Linked DNA regions of Homo sapiens: region 1 is linked to region 2. A link means that fine-mapping ties the variant in region 2 to the expression of a gene that starts in the linked region. Tissue or cell type: whole blood. Region 2 holds a variant in brackets; the other region holds the start of a gene. All regions are shown on one strand. Distances are between the middles of the regions.

The links. PIP is the estimated chance that this variant, and not a neighbour inherited with it, causes the effect.
Region 1: AP2B1 starts here. The variant in region 2 is fine-mapped to the expression of AP2B1 in whole blood (INTERVAL, PIP 0.98).

Annotation. Positions count from the first base shown.
Region 1 is chr17:35,582,488-35,590,594 of GRCh38, forward strand. It overlaps AP2B1 (adaptor related protein complex 2 subunit beta 1), which reads left to right and starts at 4,835. Exons shown (of 22, transcript NM_001030006.2): 1 at 4,835-4,941. RefSeq lists enhancers at 4,642-4,811, 4,781-5,980, 5,242-5,351 and a silencer at 4,892-5,011.
Region 2 is chr17:35,549,236-35,557,342 of GRCh38, forward strand. SLFN14 (schlafen family member 14) reads right to left here. Exons shown (of 6, transcript NM_001129820.2): 3 at 7,768-8,107; 4 at 5,341-5,469; 5 at 3,495-4,209. LOC107985033 (a long non-coding RNA gene) reads left to right here and starts at 3,970. Exons shown (of 2, transcript NR_138032.1): 1 at 3,970-4,256; 2 at 5,363-6,314. The variant C/CAT (reference allele first, on the strand shown) is at 3,416.

The sequences.
Region 1 (8,107 bases), 33 kb after region 2:
CTGCAACCTCTGCCTCCCGGGTTCAAGCAGTTCTGTACCTCAGCCTCCCGAGTAGCTGAGATTACAGGCGCCCACCACAACGCCTGGCTAATTTTAGTAGAGACGGGGTTTCATCATCTTGGCCAGGCTGGTCACGAACTCCTGACTTTGTGATCCACCTGCCTTGGCCTCCCAAAGTGCTGGGATTACAGGTGTGAGCCACAGCGCCCAGCTACGGCTTTGAGATTTTAAAGGTAGAATTGACAACTGGAGATGGATTGGATGTGGCAGTTGAAGGAAAGGGAAATCAGGAATGACCCCTAGGTTTCTGGCTTGAGCAGCTCAGTGCAATTTATTAAAATAATCACAATTACAGGAAATAGTTCCATAGTCCATGCTATATGCCAGCCATAGTTCTAAGTGCTTTACATTTAATTTATTTCATTGTTCAATATTATGATTAGATGTTACTATCTTCCTCCATTTTATAGATGAGAAAACCAAAGAAAGCACATAGATGGAGGAAACTGGGGGAAGAATAGCTTTCAAACATGTTAGGCAATGAGAAGTTGATGAAAGTTTTTGAACAGCAGAGAGGTATGAATCAAAGCTCTTAAATATTTTTCTTTTTCTTTTTTTTTCCTTTTCCTTTTTTTTTTTTTTTTTTTTTTTTTTTTTTTTTTTTTTTTTGAGATGGAGTCTTACTTTATTGCCCAGGCTGCAGTGTAGTGGTGTGATTTCGGCTCACTGCAACCTCCTCCTCTCAGGTTCAAGTAATTCTCCTGCCTCAGCCTCCCTAGTACCTGAGACTACAGGCATGTGCCACCATGCCTGGCTAATTTTTGTATTTTTAGTAGAGTCAGGGTTTTACCATGTTGGCCAGGCTGGGCTCAAAGTCCTGACCTCAGGTGATCCACCTGCCTTGGCCTCCCAAAGTGCTGTGATCACAGGCGTGAGCCACCACGGCCAGCCTCTTGAAGATTTTTCTAATGACATCTTTACGAAATCTACCTCTGTCTGCTAGCAGTTGTACCTTGAACGAGTTTTTTCTCTCTCTCTCTCTCTCTCTCTCTCTCTCTCTCTCTCTCTTTCTTTTTAGAGACGGTCTCACTCTGTCACCCAGGCTGGAGTGCAGTGGCATGATCATGGCTCACTACAGCCTCAAACTCTTGGGCTCAAGTGATCCTCCCACCTCAGCCTCCCAAAGTGCTGGGATCATAGGTGTAAACTGCTGTGCCCAACTCTGTAACCAGGTTTTTCTAACCTCCTCCATTCCTTATGATTTAACCCAGCAGTATAGTTATCGATTTGGTGATGAAATTTGGGGAATAGGTCTAGGCTAGAGATAAGAGATTTTGGAGCCATATATGTAAGAAAGATAATTAAAACCATGGTATGCTAAAGGGTTAGTGTAGAGAAAATGTATGAGTATAGAACTAAACTTGAAAAAATTGGCTGAGTTTGGTGGCTCATGCCTATAATCCCAGCATTTGGGGAGGCCAAGGCAGGAGGATCACTTGAGCCCAGGAGTTGCAGACCAGCCTGGGCAACATGGCAAGACCCCCTCTCTACAAAAAAAGAAAATTAGCTAGGCGTGGTGACACATGCCTGTAGTCGCAGCTACTTGGGAGGCTAGGTAGGAGGATTGCTTGAGCCTGGGAGGTCAAGGCTGCAGTGAATTGTAATGGCACCACTGCACTCCAGCCTGGGCAACAGTGCAACACCCTGCCTCAAGAAAGAAAAAATCCTTGCCACTGTTTTCCTCAGATACCATTTCTGCTTTCTTTGGTCATACTTTCTTATGAGTTATCTGCAACTCCTGTTTTTATTTCCTCATTTCTAATCCATCCTCAAACATCTGCAGTATGACTTTTGCCTTCATATCTCTACTGATTTCTCAGCAATAACATCAAATACCTCCATGTTACTAAATCCTGTAGACACTTTTTAGCCCTTCTCCTGTCTATGGCAACTAATATTGTTGATCACTTATTTATGCGTTTAGTCAACATATATTAATTTGTGTGTGTGTGTGTGATGGGGCTAGCCTCATGTGTGCAAGAGTGAACAGATTGGTATAGTCCCTACTTTCATGAAACTCTGAAAACATCCTAAAATATACTATTCTGCTTTTCCTCCTACCTCTCTGACTACTCCTTCTCAGTCCTCTTTGCATTCTTGGGTTTATCTGTTTCTACCCCAAGCACTCACTCTCCACATTCTTCATGAATAATGTTCATGCCCACAGATTGAATTATCATCTGTATGCTCACAGTTCACAAATTTAACTCCAGATCATTCCTTATCTTCAGACACATATAATCAAGTACCTCTTGGGTAGAGATCTTCACTCTAACCTAACGTATAAAATGAACTCATCACCTCCCTATTCTTCCCCAAACTTCTGCCATTTCTTATATTTTCCTATTTTCAGTGACTAGTACCACCGTTCCTCCCTTGCCCTAACCTAAAACATAAGCCTTATCAGCCCTAGTGTCAGACTTCCTGGGTTCAAATCTTAATTCTACCTTTGTGTGTGTGTATGTGTGTGTGCGTGTCTGTGTGTGTGACTGCAAGCTCCGCCTTCCAGGTTCATGCCATTCTCCTGCCTCAGCCTCCTGAATAGCTGGGACTATAGGCGCCCGCCACCACGCCCTGCTACTTTTTTTTTGTATTTTTAGTAGAGATGAGGTTTCACCATGTTAGCCAGGATGGTCTCGATCTCCTGACCTCGTGATCTGCCCGCCTCAGCCTCCCAAAGTGTTGGGATTACAGGCGTGAGCCACCGCGCCCAGCCATCTTAATTCTACCTTTTAACTTCTCTGTATCTCTTAAAATAGAGGAAGTAATAGTACCTACTTGGTTATCAGGTGGTGCGGATGTAAAAATGTACTTAGCAGAGTAACTGACATAAAATCATAATAAATATCAACAGTTATTTGTTTAAACCACCATCATCGTGTGGCTGGATCATGTCAACAGTTTCCTGAGTGGTCTCCCATTAGATTATGAGCCCGTGATGGTCCCAAAAGGTGAAAAGAAGGGAGATTGGTCCATACTTTCACCCAAAAGTGGAAGAGAATGAAGTTGGAAAAGCTTTCGGATTGATGCTATATTTTGAAAATAGTATTGGTTCATTTTTCCTTAAAATATATGCATTTTTCAGAGAAAGGAATGGAAAATAAAACAAATATAAAGAAGATAACATTTGTAATCAGCACCCAGAGGGAACCACTAATAGGTATATATACTCCTCTGGATTTAGAGTTTTGTATCTTTTTTTTTTTCTTATTTCAAAGCATTTTTCTGTATCATATTTTTCAACAATATGATTTAAAAGGCACATCCCAACATAGAAATAAATACATGTTCATTGTAGAACACTTTGAAAAATACAGAAAAATATTAGGAAGAAAAATAAAACTCTCACTATCCTGCAATAACCACTTTTAACGTTCTGCTGAATATCCAAGCTTTTTTTTTTTTTTTTTCTTTTGAGATGAGTCTGGCTTTGTTACTCAGGCTGGAGTGCAGTGGCGAGATCTGGGCTCATTGCAACCTCTACCTCCTGGGATCAAGCCATTCTCCTGCCTCAGCCGCCTGAGTAGCCGGGATTATAGGCGTGTGCCACCACCCCCAGCTAATTTTTGTTTTTTCAGTAGAGACAGGGTTTCACCACATTGGCCAGGCTGGTCTCAAACTCCCGACATCAGGTGATCCACCCACCTCAGCCTCCTAAAGGGCTGGGATTGCAGGTGTAAGCCACCACGCCTGGCCTATCCTAGCCTTTTTTTTCTATACATATATAGTCATACTGTATACTGTATTGTTTGGTGTCCTTTTTTTGCTTAACACTTTATGAATTTTCTGTCATAAAATATTCTATAACATTATGCAGCTATCTGATTTACCATAACTGTTTGCATTCTCTCACCTTATACCTGGCTTTCTAATTTCCCCTATTCCCCTATTTTAATAACAGAGGAAATAATAATACATGAGTATGTTATACAAAATTTTAATGTACTTCTGATCACTTTTTTAAGAATGAAGTTTTAAAATACTGAAACACTTTTTGACTCACAGAGTTCATAGGCAAAATGTGAGAAAAATCATCACTTTGCTCTCCATCCTTCCTTACACCCTGAAATTAACCTTAGGGACAGCTAGTTCATTTAACATCATCAATCTTGTTCTCCAGTTCCAGGTCCTGGAATCTAGCTCTTAGTGTCCGAAAGAAACTTACTTTTGTGTAAGCACACCTATTATATACTAGGCACTTTACCTAATTTATCTGGTTTAAACTTCACATGCCCGAGAGAGATACTATCATTGTCTTCATTTCACAGATAAGAAGGTTGATGAGACATTAACTGTCTCAGTCACATTCAGGGTAGGGATTCAAACTCACATCCAATGCCTCCTCAACCTCTTTTACGTGCAGCACTATCCTCTAGCCCCACTGCCCGTATATAGGCCTGGGCTATATCACCATTGTCCGCCCTTGAGCCTGGAAGGAAAATGAGCTGAGGGGTTTTGTTTTTTCAGAAAGGAACAGGATATTTCATCATCTCTATGTTTACGTTTTTCAGAGAATTTCTGTGCGAGGAAACAAATCCATTGTCAGCTTTTTAAAATATATCCCTTTGGAGTAGCCACTTAACATCCTCTGAGGCCCAGATGGGCTAGCTTGCCGGGACCAAAGGAAATCTTTGGGTCTGGAAGGCGACAAGAGATCACAGGCTTTCTAGGTCTACCGCGCACCCCGATGACGTCACGCGGCGACGTTCTCTGACGTCAGAGTTTCCTGCCCACCATCTTTGTCCCTGGCAAAGTGGGTTTTGCGCAGTGGCTTAGACCTAGAAAAGAATCGTGACGGGCAGGAAACCATTACACCACCACCTGGGCTGTGCTCTCCGGCTCCCGCCGCCACCCCCGCCCTCGCCTTCGCCTCCGCCTCCGGTGAGTTCAGGGCGGTTGCCTTTAGGGTGTGTCCCTAATTGACGGGGTCGGGGACGGAGAGAAGGGTAACACCAGGCTGGGTCGGAGACCGGCGGAGGCGAGGAAATCCTAAGAGCGTGACCGTTGATGATGCAGGGAACCGTCGGGTGTGACCATTGAGAGGGAAAAGGTTGGAGAAAGGGTCTCTACCATGATGCCTGTGGTGCGGTGAGGGAATCCTCGGGTGTGGCAGCAGGTAGTTGGGGGCAGGAGGGGAAGATGTGTTTCGGAATTGAGGGTTTAGGGGGACCAGAGGCCAGGGGTGTGGCTGATAGAGCCTGGAGGCCGTGGGGGGAACCGTCTTTCTTCCCCGCTCGGCGTCGTTCACTGAGAGGCTGAGACGTGTCCAGCAAGCCAAAGGGAAAAGGGATTCCCTCAAAGGTTTGCTCATTGATGGGCGAACGTCGTCTCTCGGGTAACTTGAGGGTAAGAGACAACCTCTTCCCTGCTCCGTAATGGAGGAGCATATCGCTAGAATCTTGACCACCTGGGGAAAGAAGAGGCATTCCTTACTCTTGGAGGAAGGAAAGAGTAACCTCCAGAATTGACCCGATGTAAGAGAGGGGGAAGCAAATGGGGGCAAATCTTAACCCAGCATCTTTTTTTTTTTTTTCTTTTTCTGGGCTCTGCAGTAATGGTCTGGTTTGGGAAAGGCTGTAGATTAAGCTGAAAGTAAAGAAACTGGAACGTCCTGTTATTTCCTTATCATTTGAATCCAAATCATTTGTTCATGCTGCTTGTTTTCAAGAGTAGTCTTCTATTGGAGGGGTGGGGTGGGGGGGGACAGGCCTTTATTGAACTCACGCGGATGCTTCATTAAACTTTTGACTTTTATTTTATTTTATTTTTGTATTTTTAGTGACAGGGTCTTACTGTGTAGCCCAGTCTGGTCTCGAACTCCTGGGCCCAAGCGATCCTCCCGCTTCGGCCTCCTAAAGTTTTGTGATTACAGGCGTGAGCCAGCGCGCCCAGCCAAACTTGACTTTTGAGAAGAAAAAATGTTTTGAAAACTGCCAAAGACTTATCATAACCATTGTGGTTTAAAAGAAAGTAAATGCATTAAGCTTAGAAAGGCAGAATGACTAAGAAAGAAGGTGGTCTCAATGAGAATCAATTTAAATGATTAGTTACCTTCCTTGTATACTTCAATTGCTTAGCCTCAGGGTACACTTACAAAGTAGTAATAGAAAGCAGCAGATGAAGGAGGTGCAGCTCTATAAGAAAACGTGTTAAGACATTCCAGTGATGACTAAGCGTGCTGGTAAGGTGAGAACTGTTTGCAGTATCTTAGCCGTTGAAACTTTCAAGGAAGCAGAAAGGATGATGTATAATGCAAACATCCTCACTAAAAGCTGGGTGGTAAAATCAATATAAATCTAATATTCTGACTGTGTATGAAGAAACTCAAGGAAGTCCAGTTCTTTCATTCTTTCTTTCCTTAAAAGATCCATATTTTGAAATACTAACTTTTTAGGCACAGGTTTGAACGAAGCTGAGCAAGGAATATATTAAATAGGGCACGTTCTCCTTTCTCTTGTCCTTTCTTTCCTTCTAGCCTTAGGTTTTCCAGAGTTTAATGTTATTTTGGTTAAGAATTAGATGTAAAACTTTTGAACTCCTTTGCTTCGTTATAATATTAAGAAGCTACTTTGTAGTCTGTTATGTTTAAATAGAAATCACAGGTGATTTTAGCTTTTGTGTCTCATAATTTCTTATGAGCAAGGTAATACCTGATGATGCTATTGTCTTTGCATTATTACTGAATATTTGATTAGAAATGAATTTGGCACCTCTCACCTTTATAATAAAAGATTACTGGAATGACATTTCTGCTTTATAATTTGGTTAACTTTGGCCAGTTTTTCACTATGAGCACTGAGCTTTGTAAAGTCCCACTTTGTGAAAAGAAGGGTTTAGTGACTTTACAAACTAATTTAGCTTCCCAGAGAGCCATTTGAATTAAGACCCTATTAATTTTTTTCTGACCTTATTCTACCCAAGGTATTAATCTTATTTTGCTGCTCAGTTTCTCTTTTGGGGAACTGGAGGGAGATATAGGAGAGGAGGGACTTTGACAACCTATATTTGGTAGAAACTAGGTTATGTTAAATCTGGATATATAGTCCTGTGCAGGGAGGCCTTCTCCGAAATGCAGTGACATCACACTCTGGTCGAGGGCAAGTAAGAGTGATTATGTGCTTTGACTCTGGCAGCTTTGTTGTTTAACAGTGGCCTTAGGCCATACCGTAAATCCTCAGAACAGCCGTTACTTGTCTGGTTTGATCTGGTAGAAAGGTAGTGTGAGTTCAAATTCCATCATGGCTTTGCTTATTTCTCTGGCTCTTCTGAAGGAACATTTTCTCCCCCCATAGGAGCAGCTTGATTTTTGAGGCACTTCAGCAAATATTAGATTTTTTTTTTCTTTAGCTCTATTTTGTTTACTTTTTCTGTAACTTCTTTTTTTTTTTTTTTTTTTGAGACGGAGTCTCACTCTTTCGCCCAGGCTGGAGTGCAGTGGCGCGATCTCGGCTCACTGCAAGCTCTGCCTCCTGGGTTCACACCATTCTCCTGTCTCAGCTTCCCGAGTAGCTGGGACTACAGGCGCCCGCCACACGCCTGGCTAATTTTTTGTATTTTTAGTAGAGACAGGGTTTCACCGTGTTAGCCAGGATGGTCTCGATCTCCTGACCTTGTGATCCGCCCGCCTCCCAAAGTGCTGGGATTACAGGCGTGAGCCACCGCGACCGGCTGTAACTTCTAATGAAGACGTCAGTTTTTGCCATCCTGTATTTTGGAGACTCTGGCTATGTCCATATCTAGCATGTGATTAAGTGTATCTCTCATTATATGAGGTGAGAACTCATTATATGAGAGATACACTGAATCATATATATATGTGATTTTTTTTTGAGGTGAAATTCACGTACCATAAAATTAACCAGGTTAAGGCATACAGTTCAGTGGCATTTAGTACACTGACAGTGTTGTGCAACAATCATGTCTTCTGATTTGTTTTTATTTACACTATTTTCATTTTTCTTGGAGTTTCTTTTGGCTTAAGGCAAGAACCAGCTTGGCACCATGTTTCTCTGCCAATATGGTTAGGGAATATTTTGTTACTATTGTT
Region 2 (8,107 bases):
CAGACAGAATGCATAATTTTACACCTTGCTCTTTGGGGTTATCCAGTTAAACCTGCATGTGAAACTTCTGAAATGAACCCAGGTAACAGATTGTATTATGTCTATTAGTAATCCATTCCTACTGTTTGGCAATCCTGAAGACAAGTTCATTACATCTAAAGGAAATCTCAAAGTTAACTTACACTTCTTACTACCATTTCTTTACTTTCTATCCTCTTTAGAGCTGGAAAACAGTTTCCTCGATGCATATCATAATTTTTATGTGCAAAAAAAGCACGGACTAGTTCAAATTCCTCTAAAGCTTCTTTAGATTTTGGTAAGAGAAACATCAAGAGGATGCTGAGTTCCACGACACATCAAGTAGGGTACCAAATCTATGGGGCTATGCCTCTTTGGAGCTACCTCATTTACTTAGCTCAATTTTCCTTTATAGTACGCTTTAGCATATATGTATTTTTTCTGAACGAATTTGGTTGTTTTTTGCCTCCTTTAATTTGGATCCAAGTAACATCACTCATCCCTACAGATTCCATGATTTTACATATGCAGTTCCTAGGGCCTTTACTCCCTATGCCTTGAATCATAACTATGTTCTTCTCTTCTGGTTTGGACTGTGTGGACTCAAATAAAAGTACTGATTCTTAGCCATCTTTGTATCCCTCTCACATTAAGGGTTTCATAGATATTTGTTGAGTTAGCCTTTTGACTGGAGTATTTTCAAACTTAGCTATGAAACTTAATAAAGAACGTAGTCCTCAGCACAGTCTACAGGATCCCTGATAATCTGGCGTCTACCTCCTTTTCAACATCACCACCTGCTGTATACCCACAGTCTGCACAGCTCTAGTCAGACCTACCATTCTGGTTCTCTGGTGTCTCCATGTCTTTGAACTTGCTGTGCCCTTTGCCTGGAAAGCCCTCCCCTATTTGATTCACTTCTCCTGCTGACTTCTTAACAGTGTGCCCAATGGTCTCCTTCACTGGGGAATATTTACCAACCAACCTCTAGCCTGTTAAAATGGGCATGAGGCCAGGTGCAGTGGCTCACGCCTGTAATCCCAGCACTTTGCGAGAAGGAGGTGGGCGGATCACCTGAGGTCAGGAGTTCAAGACCAGCCTGGCCAACATGGTGAAACCCCGTCTCTACTAAAAATACAAAAATTAGCTAGGCGTGGTGATGCACACTTGTAATCCCAGCTACTCGGGAGGCTGAGGCAAGAGAATCACTTGAACCCAGGAGACAGAGTTTGCAGTGAGCTGAGATCGTGCCACTGCACTCCAGCCTGGTTGACACAGCAAGACTCCGTCTCAAAAATAAATTAATTAATTAGTTAATTAAAATGAGCATGTCTTTATTATTATACAATACTCACATTGTTTTTTTTATGGCAAGGTCTTCAATATGTTTTCTCCTCTAACACTAAATGTAGCACAGTAGATACCACATCAACAGTGCTCAAAAAGATTTATTGAATAACAAAACCAAGCCAAAAATCATAATGATTTTGCCCTCTTTTGCTGAATTCTATAATGACCAATTCATTTTACTAAATTAAAAGTTAGAGATTTAAATCAGAAGTGAATTTGCATATTTTCTAAAATTACTGATGCAGAACAAGTCAAAAATGAAAATATTTTATGAACAAAATCAAACTGTATTTAAATTCAAGTTTCACTAGGTACAATGTCTAATTAGCAGAAATACCCTATGACTTTAAAACATTACATATCAAACAGAAAGTATACTTAAAGCAGAATGGGTTCATTTCTACTTCTCTTAAATGTAAGGCCATGGATTGTGAGAAAAAAAAAAGTTTCTGGTTCTGTAAATGTAAGTTATGCACATGTGGGTTATTTATAATGAGATGTTTAAGGTTGAACATTATAAATTACCTGTTTACAGCTCAATTCCATGATTATTTGGAAATGTGTATATAGTTTGGGCTCTTGCACTTATGCAACTAAGGCACTGCAAAAACTTAAACTAAAAACACAAATCACTTTTGTGACACTCTTGAAAAGACTGACTAAATATATTTTTGTGTGTGTGTGCAACCAACTCCCAGCACATCAGGTGGGTAACTCTTCCCACACGAATAGTCTGCCTACCCTCAGGAATATTTTTTGTCTGTGGTACCTCAGCCTATCGTTGTTTGAATGGCTCTTCAGAATCTATATGCTTCCTCTCATTCTTAGCGCCCCCTATGACCATCTACACTGAACAAGATTTATACAATCATGTCGTACCTAAGCCCCGCAACAAAAGGGTACCCATTCTTCCTTTTGTTATCGGAGCAGGAGTGCTAGGTGGAGTAGGTACTGGCACTGGCGGTATCACAACCTCTATTCAGTTCTACTACAAACTATCTCAAGAACTAAATGGTGACATGGAACGGGTCTCTGACTCCCTGGTCACCTTGCAAGATCAACTTAACTCCCTAGCAGCAGTAGTCGTTCAAAATAGAAGAGCTTTAGACTTGCTAGCCGCCGAAAGAGGGGGAACCTGTTTATTTTTAGGGGAAGAATGCTGTTATTATGTTAATCAATCCGGAATCGTCACCAAAAAGTTAAAGAAATTCGAGATCGAATACAACGTAGAGCAGAGGAGCTTCAAAACACTGGCCCCTGGGGCCTCCTCAGCCAATGGATGCCCCGGATTCTCCCCTTCTTAGGACCTCTAGCAGCTATAATATTGTTACTCCTCTTTGGACCCTGTATCTTTAACCTCCTTGTTAATTGGACCCTGTATCTTTAACCTCCTTGTTAAGTTTGTCTCTTCCAGAATCGAAGCTGCAAAGCTACAAATGGTTCTTCAAATGGAGCCCCAGATGCAATCCATGAGTAAAATCTACCACGGACCCCTGGACCGGCCTGCTAGCCCATGCTCCAATGTTAATGACATCAAAGGCACCCCTCCCGAGGAAATCTCAACTGCAGAACCCCTACTACGCCCCAATTCAGCAGGAAGCAGTTAGAGCGGTGGTCGGCCAACTTCCCCAATAGCACTTGGGTTTTCCTGTTGAGGGGGGCACTGAGAGACAGGACTAGCTGGATTTCCTAGGCTGACTAAAAATCCCTAAGCCTAGCTGGGAAGGTGACCACTTCCACCTTTAAACATGGGGCTTGCAACTTAGCTCACACCCGACCAATCAGATAAGAAAGAGAGCTCACTAAAATGCTAATTAGGCAAAAACAAGAGGTAAAGAAATAGCCAATCATCTATTGCCTGAGAGCACAGCAGGAGGGACAATGATCGGGATATAAACCCAGGCATTCAAGCTGGCAACGGCTACCCTCTTTGGGTCCCCTCCCTTTGTATGGGAGCTCTGTTTTCACTCTATTAAATCTTGCAACTGCAAAAAGAATATATATATATGTGTATATATATACACATATATATACATATATATATACA[C/CAT]ATATATATACACATATATATACACATATATATATACACATACATATTTTTGTGTGTGTGTAGTTGGTAAAACTCTTACGTCACAAAATCCTTTAGGGAGTCGCTTTCACAAACATAGAGGATCTCTTTTGGTTTGCAGTGAAACAAGTCCTTAATTTTCTCCATGATCTTTATGGCTAGGGCTGTCTTCCTGACTCCTGGAAAGCAGTAGATGAATAATTCACGTGTCTTCTGAAGACTCTCAGAAAGCAACTGGCTCTGCTCCATTATGAGCAAGTTGAAAAATTCACAGCCCATCTGGTCACTCAGAAGAGATCTGGAGGACAGGGAGACCACCACCAGAGCCTGCAGCAAGTCTTCCATTTCCTCCTCATCAGCAAGCCTGTAGGACCTGGGGTAACGCAGGGGGATCTCACCAGGTCTACTCTGTGTGCTGCTCAGGTGTATCAGCCTTGGAATGATGCACACTTTCCCTGTGTAACCACCAACAGTTTGCAGTTTCTGCTTTAACTGATGAGCTGTGTTTCGGGCATATTCAAGTCCTCCAGGCCAATTGGGGTCTATTAAGATTGTATAGAGTACCACGGGGCTGTTAACTGCTATCAGGAGAGCATCACACAGGACATTCTGTTCTTTCCTGAAGCCAACATCACCAGCCCAGCTTCTAGAAAATATCACAATCCCCTGAGAACAAGGATGTATCAGGGTCTTCATTAAACCCTCCAGTTCTTTATGATCTGAGAACAGCTTCTTACAGAGGGATTCTGGTTTAAATTGTACCTCTTCCTGTGTCACTGAAAATTCAAGGAATAGATGTTACCAAAACTTACAAAAGCATGTGGTAAGTATTCCTGCAACGTTGCAGAAAAAAATGATACCTGGTGCATTTGGGAAAATAAGAGCTTTCCTTTAGAATTGTGATTCTTAATCAGGAGCAGTTTTACTCCCCAACTCTCCCCCATCCCCACGGACATTTGGCAATGTCTGGAAAATTTTTTCTTTTTTTGTGAGACGGAGTCTCGCTGTCACCCAGACTGGAGTGCAGTGGTGTGATCTTGGCTCACTGCAGCCTCTGCCTCCCTGGTTCCAGTGATTCTTCTGCCTCAGCCTCTGGAGTAGCTGAGATTACAGTCACATGCCACCACACCTGGCTAATTTTTGTATTTTTAGTAGAGACAGCGTTTCACCATGTTGGCTAGGCTGGTCTCAAACTCCTGACCTCAGTTGAGGTCACCCGCCTTGGCCTCCCAAAGTGCTGGGATTACAGGCATGAGCCACCATGCCCGGCCTGAGAATTTTTTATTGTCACAATTGGAGGGGAGCTACTGGTATGTAGTAGGTACCAGATAGGAATGCTGCTAAGTATTCTACAATTCACAGGGCTCTCCCTCCCCCAGCAAAGAGTTATCTGACTCAAATGACAATAGTGCTAAGGTTGAGAAACCCTGCTTTAGAAGAAGTTCAGATAACCCAATGGCTCCTTCTGCATTGGAAAGCTAGGGGCAGTTTTTTGATGGTTGAGACCTGAGAAATTCCCTGCACTCTCAAATTTGGAAAACAAAAGCCATATGTTATGAGAAGTTGGAAGGCACACAGAAATAGTAATAGTGGGAATCAGATGACTGGAAACAAGGGTCAGATATATAGATATATAAATATTATATATAATTATATATAATAATTATATAATAAATTAATAATAAATATTAATAATTATTTTAAATAAGTATATATATGACCCTTGTTTTCAGTCATATATATATTATATATATAATATATATATTTCAAATTTCAGGATCATTATGTCGCTAAGTCCTTCATTTGACCTTCCCTAAGGAGAAACACCTGAACTCATTACTACTAACACCTCCCAACTCAATTTTAGAAAACAAATAGTCCCCTAAGTTGAAATCAAGAGGGAATACCTGGAAACAAATGTCGTTGCAGAGCCTCCTTAAATTTGTGGACTTTTATGGGATATCCGGGACTTTTTCGTGCAGATGAAGCTGATGAAATCAGGCAAGAGTTGTAGTCTGTGACCAAACTGGGAGGAGCTAGACAATTACATGGAAAGTTGTTTCAGACAAAAAATAAAAAGTTAAAAAAAAAAAAAAAAAAGCCTCTTTTTTTGGCTCTTCTTACTGGAGACCTGTGATGTGCATGGGTGCCTGAGCAGTCGTACTTACTATGCGTCAGACAGCTCACGTATGTCAGGAAAGGAAGTCTGGGGATTCCTACAGGGGACATATCACACATATTCTAAGTCACTGTGTGACTCGGCTTGAGCAAGTCATTTCACCTCTCTCTCACGCTGGAGTGAAGTAATAATCCCTAAGCTTCCTTTCAATTATAATATTCTGACTCCAGGTTATCTCTAAGAAGAAAAGGCATCTAGTGGGGATCAGCAAGGATTAAAGCACAGTATTTTAAAAATGGTGTTGGCCAGATGTGATGGCTCACACCTGTAATCCCAGCACTTTGGGAGGCCGAGGCAGGCGGATCACGAGGTCAGGAGATCAAGACCATCCTGGCTAACACGGTGAAACCCCGTCTCTACTAAAAACAAAAAAAATTAGCCAGGCATGGTGGCCGGCGCCTGTAGTCCCACCTATTCGGGAGGCTGAGGCAGGAGAATGGGGTGAACCCAGGAGACGGAGCTTGCAGTGAGCCGAGATAGCGCCACTGCACTCCAGCCTGGGTGACAGAGCGAGACTCCGTCTCAAAAAAAAAAAAAAATACAAAAAAATACAAAAATTAGCTGGGCGTGGTGGTGTGCCTGTAATCCCAGCTGCTCGGGAGGCTGAGGTGGGAGAATTGCTTGAACCTGGGAGGCGGAGGCTGCAGTGAGCTGAGATCGTGCCGCTGCACTCCAGCCTAGGCGACAAAGCAAGACCCTGTCTCAAAAAAAAAAAAAAATGTTGTTACAGTTGTTTATGTCCCCATCTAAGGTTAGATGGAATCAAAAGTGGCAGGATCTTTAGGGGAGAGGAGAAGAGAAGTGAACTCAAACAAATTAAGAGAAAGAATGACCCAATAAAATTCTCCAATCACTCAAGTTTTGATGAAATCTGGAACATACTGGCCGTGAAGGCAAGCAGATAGGCGTAGTTCGGCCTATAGTCCTTTATGGATTGATTAGGAATCACCAAGGCTGATTCCAATCAAAACTGAAAGGTAAGTGAGAACACCAGGGGTCCTGCTCCCCCCAGCACCCCCTTGCCCTAGCATCTCCTTTTGCATCATTTTCCCCCACTTGGTGGTGCCCTAAGCCCAGTGGCTTAAGGTTATTAGCTCCTAATGTTACTGAAACAATTCAAATTTGTCAACAATGTTTTGCTTGAAAGAATTAGTGGAGTAGTGGAGTCATTTATTTTTATTTTTTTATTTTTATTTATTTATTTTTTTGAGACGGGGTCTCGCTCTGTTGCTTAGGCTGGAGTGCAGTGGAGTGATCTTGGCTGACTACAACCTCCACCTCCCAGGCTCAAGCAATCCTCCCACCTCAGCCTCCCATGTAGCTGGGACTACAGGCATACACCACCACGCCTGGCTAATTTTTATATTTGGGGGAGAGATAGGGCTTCGCTATTTTGGCCAGGCTGGTCTCAAACTCCTGGGCTTAGGCAATCTGCCCACCTTGGCCTCCCAAAGTGCTAGGACTGCGCCCAGCCTCAGAGTTATTCTTAAACAGTGTTTCTCTAGAATATCATCTCTAAAATGAGGCTATTCCAATTTTGACTGGGATGATCAGCCTGCACAATTTTTTCAACAGGTTTATAGACAATAAAAGGAGACCTTTCCTAACTCATTGCTGATGGCATACTGTAACTTTCCTTTAAAAGTTGCTTAGGCTGGCCAGGAGTGGTGGCTCACACCTGTAATCCCAGCAGTTTGGGAGGTGGAGGTGAGTTGATCACTTGAGGTTAGAAGTTCAAGACCAGCCTGGGCAACATGGCAAAACCCCATCTCTATTAAAAATACAAAAATTAGCCGACATGGTGGTGTGTGCCTGTAATCCCAGCTACTTGGGAGGCTGAAGCACGAGAATCACTTGCACCTGGGAGGTGGAGTTTGCAGTGAGCCGAGGTCACACCACTGCACTCCAGCCTGGGTGACAGAGTCTAAAGAAAAAAAAGTTGTTTAGGCCATAGAATCCAAACATTTCTTGACCTCAGTTTATATTCTGAGTCTTTGGAACTAAAAATGTTAGATAAGGAACACTGTAATGGGAGAACACTTATAAGAAAAATAAATTTCTATTTTTTAACTAACATATGTGATCAAATACCCACAAAAGGCAGAGAAAGGGGTTCCTCCCTGCTGATGGGGACAATGACTTCACTTCCCTTTACCTGACTGAGTATCCAGCATCATGACCACCCACTGCTCAGCTGTCAGCCGTGTGACAGAATTGTCTTTCATGATCCAGGAATCTGGGGCCTCTGCAAACACCACGCAACAGAAGGGCTCCACTTGAATCACACAGACATAACCATCCAGGACATCTTTTTGGTACACATTCAGGATTTTTGTAGTGAAATTTACCTTTGGCTTCTCACAGCAGAAGTGGAATGTAGGCAATTTTTCTATGCAGTTTTCGATTTCTTTTTTTAGTAAGTCAGGATTCACTTTTTCCCACTTACATCCAACCACTTCTTTGCTCTTATCATCCACCCCAATGAGGACATATCC